4 linked regions of the Homo sapiens genome follow. The protein of the gene in region 1 interacts with the protein of each later gene in a pairwise test. Each region holds a gene or a part of one and is shown on either strand. Other genes may lie near its edges.

Region 1 (5,451 bases):
AAGTGTTAGGAGGTCGGCTCTGGGTGCTTTTCTTCAATCTGGCCTCTCTCCTGGCTTCTGACCCTCTGCCTCCCCTGCTTCTCATCACCACCTTCTGCTCAGCACCTTACTTGTCCTGCCTCACTCTGGTCTCATTCATCCCTCTCCATCTTAATCTTTTTGTCACTTCCTTTTTCACCCCTAACACAGCTCCCTAGGCCATTAATACCTGTCTCTTAGCCCTGAGACCTCTTTCTCATCCTCCAACACCTCCCTCCCCCACTTCTTCTTTCTTTTTTGTGAAAATGCTAGTTCATGAGCTTCCTAGTAGAGATACCTCCTGTGAAGGCCTCATAACAGCCTCTCTTTATATTATACCTTGATTCTCCAGGCCTTACTTTTTTAAGCAAACTAAAGTCCATCCAGGCACTACATGGACAATTAACCTGTACCACCAGGTGATCCCTTCAGGACCCATGCAGGAATCTGGGAAAGCAGAGAGGAAATAGAGGTGAGAACATCGAGGCCAGCATGCCTAGAGCTCCCAGATCCCTAAGGGACAAATTTTCCAGGTGCCTTAATATACACAGGGAGCATTCTCTGTCACCACAGGGCCACTCCATTCCAATATACTTGGGAAGCACCTGTGACTGTCAGGACTCAGACATAGGCTCCTGGCCAAGGGAGCAGGGAAGACAGGGACACATAAGGAATGCAAGAAGACAAAAGCAAAAAGGAACACAGCCGCAATGTCGAGATTAGTATCCAAATATTATTATGCAAACAGAGGAGATAGCAATAGCAGCAAATTGTGTGCCTTTTACACCTCCATTCCCACAGCTATTTCATTTATTTTTATACACTGCATTTGCTGATTTTAAGTTCTTAGAACAGGTACTTGAATTTTACAAGTATGCTTTTACGCCATAGCTCTTACGATTAAATATATGAAATCAGCCTCAGGCATTAGACAAATGGAGAGCCTTAACACACATAAATGAAACAGTGGAAGCACATACTTTTCACAGACTTGGCCACTATTTTCCTATACTATGATTTCTCTCTACTGCAGACATTAGCTGGCTAGTAGCAAAGGGGTGTAATTATAGTGGCCACATTTATTGAATGCTTACTATGTACCAGCAGTTAAGCACTTACATGGATTACCTTTTAGACTTTATAAAAACCTCACAAAGCAAGTAGTACTGTGAGCTTTGACTTATAGTTGAGAAAACTGAACATGAGAGAGGTTTAAAAAAACATCTCAGAAGGTACAACTGTAAAGTGGTGCATTTTTTATCACATGCATTCTGCCTCTAAAGCCCAGATCCATTACCATTACCTATTGCTCTGGTTGGCAGATCACACAGGTTCTAGGCTTGGCTCAGGTACAGACTTGCTCTGTGTTCCATCTATTTACAATAAATAATGTCAATGTCCTCCAGGAAAAAAAAAACACTGAGAACACACCTGTAGTTGGACAAGATTGAATTTATTGACTCATTGCAACAAGTGAGAACATAAAGCATGGGAAAGTGTAAGGTACCTTGAAAAGTTATTACAGGATTTGGGCTCATGTTAGGTAAGGACACGGGAGTAAATCTATTGAATATCTTAATAAATCTTATCTAGAAGGTAGGAAGAACAGAGTGACCCAAAAGTTGTTAAAAAAAAAAAAATCAACTAGGTTTTTTGGTTAAAAAAAAAAAATCAACCAGGGTCAGGGGCCGTTGGATCATTTTTGTGATTTAGACAACGTTCTTGTCGGAGTCCAAACATTATTAAGTGGTCTTGTTTCTGCTTTGATCCATCAAAGTCACAGAGTGGCCTTGTCTCATATTGTGTTTTGATATTACCGATGTTCAACCGAACACCAAGGCCTAGCTGACAACGCCAGTCTCTGCTGCTTTTCCTTTGCTTAATAACAACAAGCAGTCTCAGCACACTGGCTGTGTACCACGGACTGCTCTTAGACTGTACAAGTATTAAACTCAATTTTAATCTTCTCAAGAAACTCTATGACATAGGTACTAATTTTATAACAAGGAAACAGGCCGAGAGGTTAACTGGCTTACCTGAGGTCACCCCGCTGAAAAACGGTGGAGACAGATTGAGAACGCAGGCACCTTAGCGCCCAGCTCAGGCTCCTCACCACCACACTAGACTGCCCCTCAGGAACCAAGAGTTCTTTCAGAGGTAGAGAAGCAGAGCAAGCTCTTGAGCCTGCCTCCTGAAACCCTGCCTTTGCTTCTCCTTTCAGCTCCAAGACTGCCCTGCGCACTGGGAGCAGCGATACCCAGGTGGATGAAGTAAAGTCAATACCAGCCAACAGTCACCTGGTGAACCACCTCAATTGCCCCATGTGCAGCCGGCTGCGCCTGCACTCATTCATGCTGCCCTGCAACCACAGCCTGTGCGAGAAGTGCCTGCGGCAGCTGCAGAAGCACGCCGAGGTCACCGAGAACTTCTTCATCCTCATCTGCCCAGTGTGCGACCGCTCGCACTGCATGCCCTACAGCAACAAGATGCAGCTGCCCGAGAACTACCTGCACGGGCGTCTCACCAAGCGCTACATGCAGGAGCACGGCTACCTCAAGTGGCGCTTTGACCGCTCCTCCGGGCCCATCCTCTGCCAGGTCTGCCGCAACAAGCGCATCGCTTACAAGCGCTGCATCACCTGCCGCCTCAACCTGTGCAACGACTGCCTCAAGGCCTTCCACTCGGATGTGGCCATGCAAGACCACGTCTTTGTGGACACCAGCGCCGAGGAACAGGACGAGAAGATCTGCATCCACCACCCATCCAGCCGCATCATCGAGTACTGCCGCAATGACAACAAATTGCTCTGCACCTTCTGCAAGTTCTCTTTCCACAATGGCCACGACACCATTAGCCTCATCGACGCCTGCTCCGAGAGGGCCGCCTCACTCTTCAGCGCCATCGCCAAGTTCAAAGCAGGTCCTCCCCTTTTCCACTCCTTCAGCCTAACTTCTAGTTCAGGAACACATGGGGAAGATGGCGTGGGGTAATCTGTTAAGTGAGTGCCTTAACAGATTCCACCTAGTGGAGCAATCAAGGCACCAGGAAACACTGTGCTACCCTGCAAGTCACTATCCTGGTGTCCGCTCCTGGCAACCACCACCAGCCACTTAACTTCCCCGTGCCTTGCTTTTCTCACCTATGAAACGGGAATAGTAGTGACCCCCTCACTGGGTTGCCATGAGGATTAAGTGAGTTCCTCTATGTAAAGCATGCAAAAAGTCATATGACAAGTGCATAAAGATTCTATAATCTTGATTATAATCTTCATGTCCTCAGGTCTCATTTTCTCCTTTGGAAAATGAAGACTTTGATCCTATAGTATACTGACGTTCTGTGACGTTCTAAGATGTTCTGTCACTGTTGGATCTCTTTGGTTTTCCTAAATATGCAGGGGGAGATAATTAAGTCAGTGCTGAGAATTATCTCAATGTTAAATTTCCCTCCATGAATTTTTTCCAAAACTTGCAGATGCCAAAGTAAATAAACTGGCAGCAAACATATAACAACAGGGACAACTCTTAACTAGCCAATAGCATTCTAGTCAACAGCTTATTTTTCCTCTGCATGCTTGTTCATGGTGATTTGGTTGTTTTATATTGTTACATATAATATTGCTTTAAGTGAAATAATATTTCAATGATGGTTTCAGTGATGGAAACAAGCATAAGAGTATTTCACAGGATTCAGCAAAGAGCCCATAATTTCTGGTTTCAGGGACAAAACCAAGTATAATAATATTTCACAGGATTCAACAAAGAGCCCCATAATTTCTGGGTATGTCTCTACCTGGTCAGACATGAGAATCCAAAAGATCCCTTTAGTGCCCTTTACCCCCAGGAATAGTTCTTTGTATAAAGGTCCACTTTACTCAGGCCTGTGGAGCACATTTTGTCTAATCTCAATAATGCTACAGTACAGGCATTAAAATGTCCTCCATGGATAAGACAACTGTGGTTCAAAAAAAAAATTAGGACAGGGAGCTAATAAGTGGCAGATGCAGTCTATTTGACTCCAGTGCCTATCATTAATTCCACAATATTCATTTGACAATCTACTTTGTGCTAAGCAGTGACCAGAATCTGAAGATGAAGAGATTGAAGGGGAGGGAAGGGGAACCACCACTACCATCCATGGTCTGTTTCCTTAAGGAGTGGCCTACAGTCAGTTACCAAAGTGCACCAGATCAACCCAGGCCTTTCTCTTTGTCAGATCTGTTAGTCTCCATCATTCAGATAGGCCTACACATTTGGGAGGGAGGCAGCTTTTCCTTGACCTGCACAGAAAGGTCCCATTGGATGTAAAGGTGGGTCAGAAACAGGCTTTGCTAATGACCACATCACCCCGGACCTCTCAGTAGCTTCAGGAATACCTTAATTTTTCTCAATGGCCACATACCTGGAAACCTTGCTTGTCAATTGACATTTATTTAATTTTGGAACCACCACCAGGGAAGACTTCATATTAAAGGAACCCTGCAGGAACCACATTACCAAGAAAATGGTAGAACTGTTGGTTCCAAAAGGGTTTTCTGAAGGTGGGACTCACTGCCTCCCTAGGCCAGGGCTTGGCTGGATTCTTTGGGTCCTCAGCATGGTGAAGGCACTGCCGCCTACAACCTACTGTGCCTTCCATCCCTCTGTAGAGAACCTCGTCCTTAATACAGGAGAAACTTAGGATAGTTTTCTGAGTCCAGGGCACCTAAAATTTGAGCAGACAACAAAGCTCAATTCAAGGTGGGGGGAAAATGCCTGTCCAAATTCCAGGAAACCCAGCAGTTGGAAAGGGAAAAAGGGATAATTGGTAAATTAGATATTAGCTGTAAGTAAAGAATTTAACCTTTCATCCTTGCTGAAGAAACAGACACACAAAAATTTTTTAACCAGGGTTCAAACTTGTTCGTGAGCATTTGATTCACTTTTCTGGGAGGTACCATAAATTGGCATTCTAAACAGATCTCCAGGTTATTCAAAAGCAAGTGATCTGGGAATACACATTGAGAAACTGGGGGACCTAGGGAGAAGATCCATTCTAGAAGCTTTACTAAAAACTGATGCCCCTGTCCCATCCACATAGAGGTGCAGGCTCAGCAAGATGGAATTTTAAAAAACTCCTCATGTGATTCTATGGTGCAGCCAAGGTCGAGAACCACTGAAATAAAGGGAGCTCAAAAGTTTAGGTCCCTGCCACTCAAAGTATGGTTCAAGGACCAGTAGCATTGGCATCACCTGAGAGCTTGTTAGAAATGCAGAATCTCAGGACCCACCCCAGGCCTAGTGCATCAGAATCTGCATCTTTATCATGATCCCAGGAGATTCTCTGGGTTCGATTCTAAACCTCACTGAAAACTGCCTCACCTGGCTTCCTGAGCCCCAACACAGGCCCATTGATTCAGAATCTTAGCAGATGAGTCCAAGAGAAGAGTTTTTTTTT
Region 2 (2,566 bases), on another chromosome or scaffold:
ACCACTGGACCACCCTTGTATGTAAGTTCCACTAATAAACCCTGCATCATGTTAGCTTTCTCCAGGTCCCTTCTCTAGCTCTCAGACACATTGTCATACTTAGTGGAGTCAATGGGGGTCCAGGATGACAATGTGTCATCTGGGCAAAACATTTCCCTAATTCTCTTCCAGTACCACTTCTAACCTTGCTGCTGAAAGGAAAGTTCATTACTTATTTTTTTAAATCTGTGTTTAATATGTATAAATGTAAGAGGTTCAAATGCAGCATTGTTACATGGATATATTGCATAGTGGCATGAAGTCTGGGCTTCTACTTTAATATATGTTTTCTTTCCTGTCTAAAGACCATGGTTTACTGAATCCAATGAGCATAAAACTCATAGTAGAGGCTACTTACTGCAGACTGAGGAGACCTGGATCTCAGACCTCATATGGTGACCTCATTGTGTGACCTTGGTACACTCTCAGGACCTCAGCTGTAGAGTGAGGGCATAGGCCTACATATTCTCCGCAATCCCTTCCCGGACTCTACAGATGCAACGACTAATTCCAAACAAATTACAAATATAATAATTGCAATGGATCCTTGAAGAGGGTTTTACAATCAAGGTAGAAGTTGAGTTTGGATTGGAAGGATGAGGAGGGCATTCCAGGTGAATGATGACACATCAAAACCAAGGCAGGAAAGCCCAGGTCCTAGTCAGGGGAGAGTGACCACACCAGTGGCCAGGGATCTGCATTTCGTGTGGTCCCTGCTCATATGAAAAACCACAAGCCTATCTTTAAGTGAGTCATGGAAGGAGCTATCTGTGAAGCAGATGACTACTGGTCTGCACTAGGATGATGCAATTAACCTGCTACCATCATGCCCATGTGCATTAATAAGGCAAGTCACTGCTTGGGTGCCGGTGATGGGAGCCTTTGAAGACAAGGAAGAACATGCTAATTTTAGCGCCAAAGGGCAGAGCGATTAGACACTAATTTAGAAAACACATTCTTTTCTCTCTTATGGGTTAGGAATATTTCAAAGGAAAATTAATCAGAAGTGAATCCAATGTCTAAATTTAGTGAGGATAAACAATACAAGAAAATGAGCGAATATTTGTGGTGTATGTACATGAATATGTATGAGGTGAAGAGTGACCAAAATACCATTAGTCAATGCTAAATCTTCACTTAATTGGCCAGAAGATGCACAAGAAAATGATCATATGTTGAAGGGTCATCAGCTCCCAGCCAGGGTATATAAAGGGCCCAGAGGGGGAGGAGGACATTCACACCTGAGAACATCCAGCTCCTCTCAATAGCCCAACCCACACCAGCCTCAGACACCACCATGACCGGCTCCTGCTGCGGCTCCACCTTGTCCTCCCTGAGCTACGGGGGAGGCTGCTGCCAGCCCTGCTGCTGCCGCGACCCCTGCTGCTGCCGCCCCGTGACCTGCCAGACCACCGTGTGCCGCCCCGTGACCTGCGTGCCCCGCTGCACGCGCCCCATCTGCGAGCCCTGCCGCCGCCCGGTGTGCTGCGACCCCTGCTCCCTGCAGGAAGGCTGCTGCCGCCCCATCACCTGCTGCCCCTCGTCGTGCACGGCTGTGGTGTGCAGGCCCTGCTGCTGGGCCACCACCTGCTGCCAGCCTGTGTCTGTGCAGTCCCCCTGCTGCCGGCCCCCCTGCGGCCAGCCGACCCCTTGCAGCACCACCTGCAGGACCTCCTCCTGCTGAGACCCCAATGCCCCCACAGAGCAATACACTGAAGCCTAAACATCTATCTGGTGTTTTTAAAAAGTTAAAAGAAAAATAGATTTTTTTTCACAAGGTGACAATAGTGATTTTTACCATCTGGATACAGCCTGGTGTAAGCAGACGTCCATTACCACCCTCACCCACATTTTCAGGTGTCTACATCAGCCTTAGTCATTATGGATAGTAAATCGACCTTTAAGAATTCCTGGGGTGGACTTTGCAAACACATTCTACAACCTGATGGTTTTTACTGCTCAAACTGTCACCATCATCTTTTGCAATGTGTTGCTCACTGTTGTCAATAAACTAATTTTTCCTGGCATAGCAGACTGCCCTGCTCCCTGATTTGTTCGTTAGTGCATGTTTATTAGCGTACACAGATAAGCAAGATTTTGGAACCTGCACAAGGGAAACAAAGCTCAACCTAAGCAAAACCTTATCCATAGAAATCTCATCTATTCAGTCATTCAGGAATTGTTTATCAAGGGACCTCCAGTTGACAGGTGCTGCCTGATTAGTGATGAACAAGCTACATGCCTTGTATCCAAGAAGCTTATGGTCTAATGGAATAGACAAAAGGAAAGACAATGTTCATGAAGAGGGGTAGAAGTGGGAATAGCATATGCCAAGCCCAGAATGACCACTGGTAGTAAACTGACCAGCACAGCGCATCTCATCTTCTTACCACAGTTCCTAGAGTAGCATTTTTCAAAGTGTGGCCCATGCGTCATACACAATAGAATCTCTTGCAATTGCCTATTAAAATGCACATTCTTAGGCCCCAAACCAAACCTAATGAATCAAAATCTCTGGGAGTGGGGC
Region 3 (3,500 bases), on another chromosome or scaffold:
TCACTGCATTAGCTTATTTTTTCCTCATTTTTAGTTCTTTCAAGAATCATTAATTCCATGCTTGAAAATGTCTGAATGGCACTAATGAGGATAAGTTTTTTAATCTTTTGAATTCTTAATGTGAACTAACAGGAAAAAAATCTCAGAGCTAACAAATTAGAGTTGGTAAAGGGCCGATTTATAAGTGTCTCACAATTTATGGGTGTAAATCAAAATGTTAACTAGTACAGTCATAAGCTGTTTGTACAATCCTTAGGCTTTAACTTCTTTGGAATTGGCAAGCTAGGCATTTGACATGTATTTATATAACTGTACGGTTGTAGTTATTAATGATCTTGTCATTATTGTTGATAATGAAAAAAGATCTTCACTATAATTTCTTCGTATAATTCTTATAATGAAACAAGTAAATACTATTAACTAGAAAAAATCTAGTCTGCAGTTAGCCCACACACATCCAAACTTATCTCTGCCAGCAGCAAAAGAAAGCTTGAAAACCTTTGCCAAAATCAGAAGTTTCCCATTTAGATTACATAAGTTTCTGTTGAATTGAAATATATTTAGATAACATTTAAACCATTGATCTTTTGGTATTAACTCTCAGATGTTTCATAACTTTCTGTCTTTTTAGTATTCAGGGATATTATGTAAAGTTTTTCCTGCACTGAATCTCTGTGCTTGAGCCTACTGAAATGATCCCCCTAAGCCATGCTGCCTGCCTTTTGTGTTTAATGTTTTTTTACACTGACTTATCTCCTTCGTGTGTTCACCTCTCCCCCAGAGGAAGACAACAGAACAGTATAATTTACAGTTTGTACAGGTTAAAAAAAAAAAAAAAGGTTGTAAGGTGGGGGGGTGATATTTTGTTTTAAAATATTTGGGTAAGGAAAATTTTGTCTTTAATATTAATTCTGTAATGCTTGACCAGGCATGGTGGCTCAAACCTGTAATCCCAGCACTTTGGGAGACCGAGGCGGGCGGATCGCATGAGGCCAGGAGTTCGAGACCAGCCTGGCCAACATGGTGAAACCCCGTATCTACTAGAGATACAAAAAATTACCCAGGCGTGGTGGTGCATGCCTGTAGTTCCCGCTACTCCAGAGGCTGAGGCAGAATTGCTTGAACCCGGAAAGTGGAGGTTGCAGTTAGCTGAGACCACACCACTGCACTCCATCCAGCCTGGGCAACAGAGCAAGACTCAGTCTCAAAAAAAAAAAAAAAAAAAAAAAACATAAAAATAAAAATATAATCCTTGACTGTTACCCAGTATTTTTACATTATTTATATTAATATCATTTGATCTTCACAGAGAATTCTATGGAGTACTGTAATATTATCCTCAGAGGGAAACTGAGGCATCTATGGATAGACATGCAGTGTGGCTTAGTGATTAAAGCTCTGCATGCTGGAAGCTGACACCTGGGTTCCAATCCTGACGCAGCCCTCGCCTCTCTCCGACCTTGTGCACGTTGCCTAACCTATCTGTGTTTTGGTTTCCTTATCTGAAAAATGAGAATAGTCTCTACCTCATAGGGTGTTGTGAGAATCAAATGAGTCAAAACATGCTAAGTGCTTTAAATAGTGCCTGACACAGAGTAAATGCCCAGTAAATATTAATTCAATATTTTTAAAATGTAGAAGTGTGTTACGGCTAGAAGGGGATTTTGCTGAAAGTGGAATCTAAACCTTGCAATTTTACATCCTGTTCTGTTCTATCACTTGGTAGAGAGTAACAATTACATCCCGATTTTAGTTTACACATGTTAACTAGCAGTTTAGCATTCATCAATAAACTATAGATACTTAAAAGCTTTAGCTATCAGAAGATCAGTCAAATTATAGGTAAATACTGAATACATTTAAAGAAAATGTAGAGGGTTTTTATTATCTTTAGTAACTCAACTAGGTTAAAATGAAGAAATTTGAATTTAAACAATACAGTAGTTTCCCCTTATTTGTGGTTTCAGTTACCCACATGGTACAGTATGATAAAATATTTTGAGAGACCACTTTCATGTACGTTTTATCACAGCATATTGTTATATTGTTCTATTTTATCATCAGTTATTGTTGCTAATGTCTTACTACACCTAATTTATAAATTAAAGTTTATCACAGGTATGATAGTATATATAGGGCTTGGTACTATCTGAAGTTGCAGGCATCCGTGGGAGTCTTGGAACGTATCCCCCTTGGGTAAAGGGAGGCTCTTGCTAACTTATTTATGTCCTTACTTATTGTGCAGAGGACTTGAAACAGTAAACACTGATGTCTGTATGGTGATTATAGTTCACAATTATTTTCATTTCTATTATCGTAATTGATCCATACACAAACTCATGTGAGATAGGAGGGCAAGTATTAATATCCCTAATTCACAGATGTAAGAAAAGTTGCAAGAATTTTGGGTGACTTTCTTAAGGGAAGTAAGTGACCAAGTTAAAACTGAAAGCAGAACCCAAATATGTGCATATTGATTCAAAACACAAAGTTGATTTAAAAATTAGCACGCAAAACATAAATCTAAAATATTCTTACTATTCAGCAAATTTTTATTGAGTAGCTACTATATACCAGGCATTGTTTTAGGTGCTAGAAATATAAAAAAGGAGTAAAATAAAGTCCCTGTCCTTGTAGAGTTTGTATTTTTTGTTTCTTTTGTAATTGCAGCAAATTGAAAATCCCTAGAAAATGGGGTTTACTGCTTAATTGGCTTCTACTTAACCGAGACTATATCTCTAATTATTTTCTTTGATTCATAAGGTACTTTAAGGATTTTTTTTCTTAGTGCCTCAGGGTTACTAAAAAGATCAACTGTAATGGCTTTTGATATAAATGATAAAAAAACTGATTCAAGTGTCCCATTTCAAATGAATAATTTGTTTTTTAACTGTTTTTCATTCATCAAATGCAGAATTTACCAAAACTGAATTATCTTAGATTTCTAGTTATTTATATATTAACTTTTTGTTTATTCAGAATCATTTTTCTGTTTGTTGGAATATTTCTAAGAGCCTTGGAAAATCTCGAGTAAAATTTTAAATGAATTTGTATAGTGTTCTGCCTCTTTCCAAAGGTATTTCTCAAAATTGGAATTGTTTTATTATTGAAGTTGAATGACTTCAGGGAACTCTAAAATGCAAGATGGAAGCTTCTGTTTGGTTTTTTCTTTCCCTTTGGTAAGGTCTTTTGCTTCCCATCCCCTTGACCCACCTTTGTGCTGTCTGTTGTCCAGTCTGCTCTCCTGATCCCTAAAGATGTTTCTTATCTAGGCTACCATTTATGTGGGTAAAAGACAAGGTAGAAAATACTCTTCTGTATCTTGTATCAAGGGTTAATCTAATATCTTCATCACTTTGTTTTGAGATATTTTGGAATGTTATCAACAATTATTATAGATGGAGCATGTATGTCTTAGGTTTGGTGTTAACTGTTTAACATGCATTATCTTATTCAATCCTCACAGCAGTTATAAAATGTAGGTGTTTTAGAGGTAAGCA
Region 4 (3,500 bases), on another chromosome or scaffold:
ACAGCCCTCAAGGGTGACTTCCTCCTCTCAACCTCAGGGCAGGTCCAGATCTCACCCCAGCCACACCTCCCACACCCAGGTCTCACCGGTGTGGGACAAGCTGGGCAGTTTGAGACCCCGGGTCCCTATTGGCCGGAGTTGATGTAGCTGGTCCAGCCTGAGGTTCTCAAGGCGGCGAAGAGTGGACAGACCAGTGCCAGCAATGCAAGGTCCCTCGTCCAAGCTGGAGAGGTCTTCAGTGCTGCCCCCTGCATTGCCAGTCATTTCCACACCACTGTCTGTATTGGCTGCACTCCCTGCCGGGGAGTGGTCACTGCTGCAGGATGACTGGGCCCCAGGGCTTGGCTGTGGCTTCTGTGGAGAAGATGAGGTCTGAGGGCAACACCCTTCCCCACAGCTCCTTCAACTTGATGAGTGGCTGAAGCCTGTGTCCCAGTGACTGCTGGGGTTCCAAGGAAGCTTGTAAGTGTAGAAAGGGCTAAGCAGGTAAGAGATGGGGGAGCAAACTGAATGTGAGACGTTTGATGAGAAGAACCTAGGCTGGAGCACGGACTGGCTGGACTCAAATTCTTGCTCTTAGTTCTATGACCTTGGGCTATTTCTCTATGCCTGAGTTTCTTCAACTGAAAATGGGAACAGTGAGTCCCTTTATCATGAAGTTGCTGTGAGGAGTACATGAAATTATACATGTAAAAGGCTTGGAACATATACTAAGTGCTATTTAAGAAAGAGTTGCCGGGTGCAGTGGCTCACGCCTGTAATCCCAGCACTTTGGGAGGCCGAGGTGGGCAGATCACGAGGTCAGGAGATCAAGACCACCCTGGTTAACACAGTGAAACCCCATGTCTACTAAAAATACAAAAAAATTAGCCCGGCGTGGTGGCAGGCGCCTGTAGTCCCAGCTACTCAGGAGGCTGAGGCAGAATGGCGTGAACCTGGGAGGCGGAGGTTGCAGTGAGCCGAGATCATGCCACTGCACTCCAGCCTGGGCAACAGAGCGAGACTCCGTCTGAAAAAAAAAGAAAGAGTTTGGGTTGGATGCATTGGCTCATCCCAGCACTGTGGGAAGCTGAGGTGGGAGGATCGCTCAAGGCCAGGAGTTTGAGACCAGCCTGGTCAACATAGCAAGACTCGATCTCTAAAAAGAAGAAAAATTAGCCAGGCATGATGGGGTGTGCCTGTAGTGATCACTTGAGCCCAGAAGTTTGAGGCTGCAGTGAGCTATGATTATGCCACTACACTCCAGCCTGGGCGACAGAGCAAGACTCTGTCAGAAAGAAAGAGAGAAAGAGAGAGAGAGAGAAAGAAAGAAAGGAAGAAAGGAAAGAAGGAAAGAAGGAAGGAAGGAGAGAGAGAAAGAGAGTGAGAGAGTGAGACAGAAAGATTCTAAAACCTCTAGATTTGGGGAAGCCCAAAGAGCAACACTAAGACAAGAGACAGGCAGACTGGTCACAGAAGAGTGACTTCTATAGGAGGGAATGGATGGGTTGGGAAGTAACTAGAAAGATGTCCACAGGGTGGGCTGGGGTATGGAGGTGAGGGTTGCCTGGGCTCTCTCACCATGGCACCCTCTGGCACAGTCAGTCTGCTTTCCTCCCTGATGGGACCTCCTTCCCGCTCCCTCTTGGGCTCCACTGTAGAAATGGATGGTGCCCGAGGCAGGGGGCCATCCCCACGGTGCCGTTTGGTCACATGGGCGTCAGGACCATGCACTGTCTTGACATGTTTTCGCAGCGAGCTAGGATCTGTATAGCGTTTGGTGCAGCCAGGGAGCTTACATACATACGGCTTCTGTTGAGTGGAGAGTGGAGACAGAAGGCAAACGGATCAAAGCGGAAGAATGCAGAAGAAATGGGAAAAAGTGGTGACAACACAGGGGGCAGGGGAGGAGCACACAGCACCAAAGGAAGTAAGGAGGATGGAGGCCTCCGGTGGGAGTCAAAGATGCAGAGATTAAGTGGAGGGTTAGGAAAACTGACAGCCTGGGAAAGATGAGGGGGTGAACCCAGGGCTGTGAGGTCCCATAAATCCAGGGGTTGGAGGGATCAGGGGTCTCCTCTAGATGGAATCTTTTAGGTTAGCCTTTTGGCTGGTTAGAGGTTAGAGGTAGGAGGAGGAGTGGTTAAGTGGAAATTCTGGGTTTCAGAAAAGCCTTTTCTGGGCGAATTATGTGGGGAGGGGGACTCACCTCTGTGGAGTGGGTGCTGGGCTAAGGGATTTCTTATGGGGGAATCTCCCTGGTAGGTGGCTTCTCAAGAGGGGAGGGTCGCTTAGTTAGGGCATTCACCTCATTGGAATGGGTCCGATTCTGGTGCTTGGCTCGGTCACTGGCATTGCTGAAGGCTTTACTGCAGCCCTCGTGCTCACACATGTATGGCTTCTCACCCGTGTGTGACCGCAGGTGCGTCTTCAGGTTTTCGAGGCGTGAGTATGACTTCCGGCACCCTTCAAACTGGGGGACATGCAGGGGTCAAAGGATAGTTCTCAGACAGAGGACATGGAGATGGAAGGAACCCTCAATCTCCAACAGGACACACATCAGAGAATATAACTCAAGATGAAAGGCACTGGGGCTTCGAGAGAATTCCCAAAACTAGGGGACAAGGGCAGGCAAGAACTTGGAGAAGGGAAGCAGTTGGAGGCACTCTCCCTTTGGGAATATAAAGATGCTAGAGCATCTTCTGACCAAGCCAGGGCAGATTTCTCTGCATGGGGATCTTAGGCTGTCCCAAGATGGGGTCATCTTGGGGGAACGGGCTGTTGTCCTTGATGCAGGGTTTATCCATTAGGCAGAGTAGTAGGCACAGTACTGAAGGCCAACAATACTTTAAGAGGCCCACGAACATGTTTTAATGTCTTTTTTAAAAAAAATTTTTTTTTTGAGGCGGAGTTTTGCTCTGTCGCCCAGGCTGGAGTGCAGTGGCGCCATCTCAGCTCACTGCAACCTCCACCTCCTTGGTTCAAGTGATTCTTCTGCCTCATCCTCCCAAGTAGCAGGGACTACAGGCGCCCATCACCACGCCCAGCTAATTTTTATATTTTTTAGTAGAGACAGGGTTTCACCAATATTGGCCAAGCTGGTCTCGAACTCCTGACCTTGTGATCTGCCTGGCTCAGCCTCCCAAAGTGCTGGGATTACAGGTGTGAGCCACCGTGCCTGGCCTGTTTTAATGTCTTTTAAAATCAAGGGGAAAAAAATGAGCTTTTAGGTCCAAGAGTGTTTTAATATATATCATCATATTCATCTTTATGCCAACACAGTCACACAAACATTATTTTTAATATTTGTTTATGGAAGAAAGGACTTATAAAAGCAAAAGTCTGCCTTGGGCCCTACCTTGAAGGAGAGCCCTGATTTAGGAAGAGACCCTGGACTTGGGACACTGGTGCCTCACCGTGCACTTGTGTGGCTTCTCGCCAGTGTGTCTGCGCATGTGAACCACCAGCATGTACTGGGCTTTGAAGGGCCTCAGCTCCCTGGAGCAGCCCCCCCAGTGGCA

What was found. Proteins that work in one complex are often made in the same cells at the same time.
Region 2: the proteins of TRIM42 (region 1) and KRTAP2-4 interact in binary tests that used the Homo sapiens proteins (3 or more experiments, as listed by UniProt).
Region 3: the proteins of TRIM42 (region 1) and LONRF1 interact in binary tests that used the Homo sapiens proteins (3 or more experiments, as listed by UniProt).
Region 4: the proteins of TRIM42 (region 1) and GLI1 interact in binary tests that used the Homo sapiens proteins (3 or more experiments, as listed by UniProt).

What each region holds. Positions count from the first base shown.
Region 1 is NC_000003.12:140,680,223-140,685,673, forward strand, and holds part of TRIM42 (tripartite motif-containing protein 42), read left to right. Parts: intron 1-2,239; coding exon 2,240-2,937; intron 2,938-5,451.
Region 2 is NC_000017.11:41,064,616-41,067,181, reverse strand, and holds KRTAP2-4 (keratin-associated protein 2-4), read left to right. Parts: upstream 1-1,302; 5' UTR 1,303-1,336; coding exon 1,337-1,723; 3' UTR 1,724-2,066; downstream 2,067-2,566.
Region 3 is NC_000008.11:12,749,027-12,752,526, reverse strand, and holds part of LONRF1 (LON peptidase N-terminal domain and RING finger protein 1), read left to right. Parts: intron 1-3,500.
Region 4 is NC_000012.12:57,466,285-57,469,784, reverse strand, and holds part of GLI1 (zinc finger protein GLI1), read right to left. Parts: coding exon 3,396-3,500; intron 2,453-3,395; coding exon 2,288-2,452; intron 1,792-2,287; coding exon 1,561-1,791; intron 355-1,560; coding exon 87-354; intron 1-86. UniProt on the Homo sapiens protein: Acts as a transcriptional activator. Binds to the DNA consensus sequence 5'-GACCACCCA-3'. Regulates the transcription of specific genes during normal development.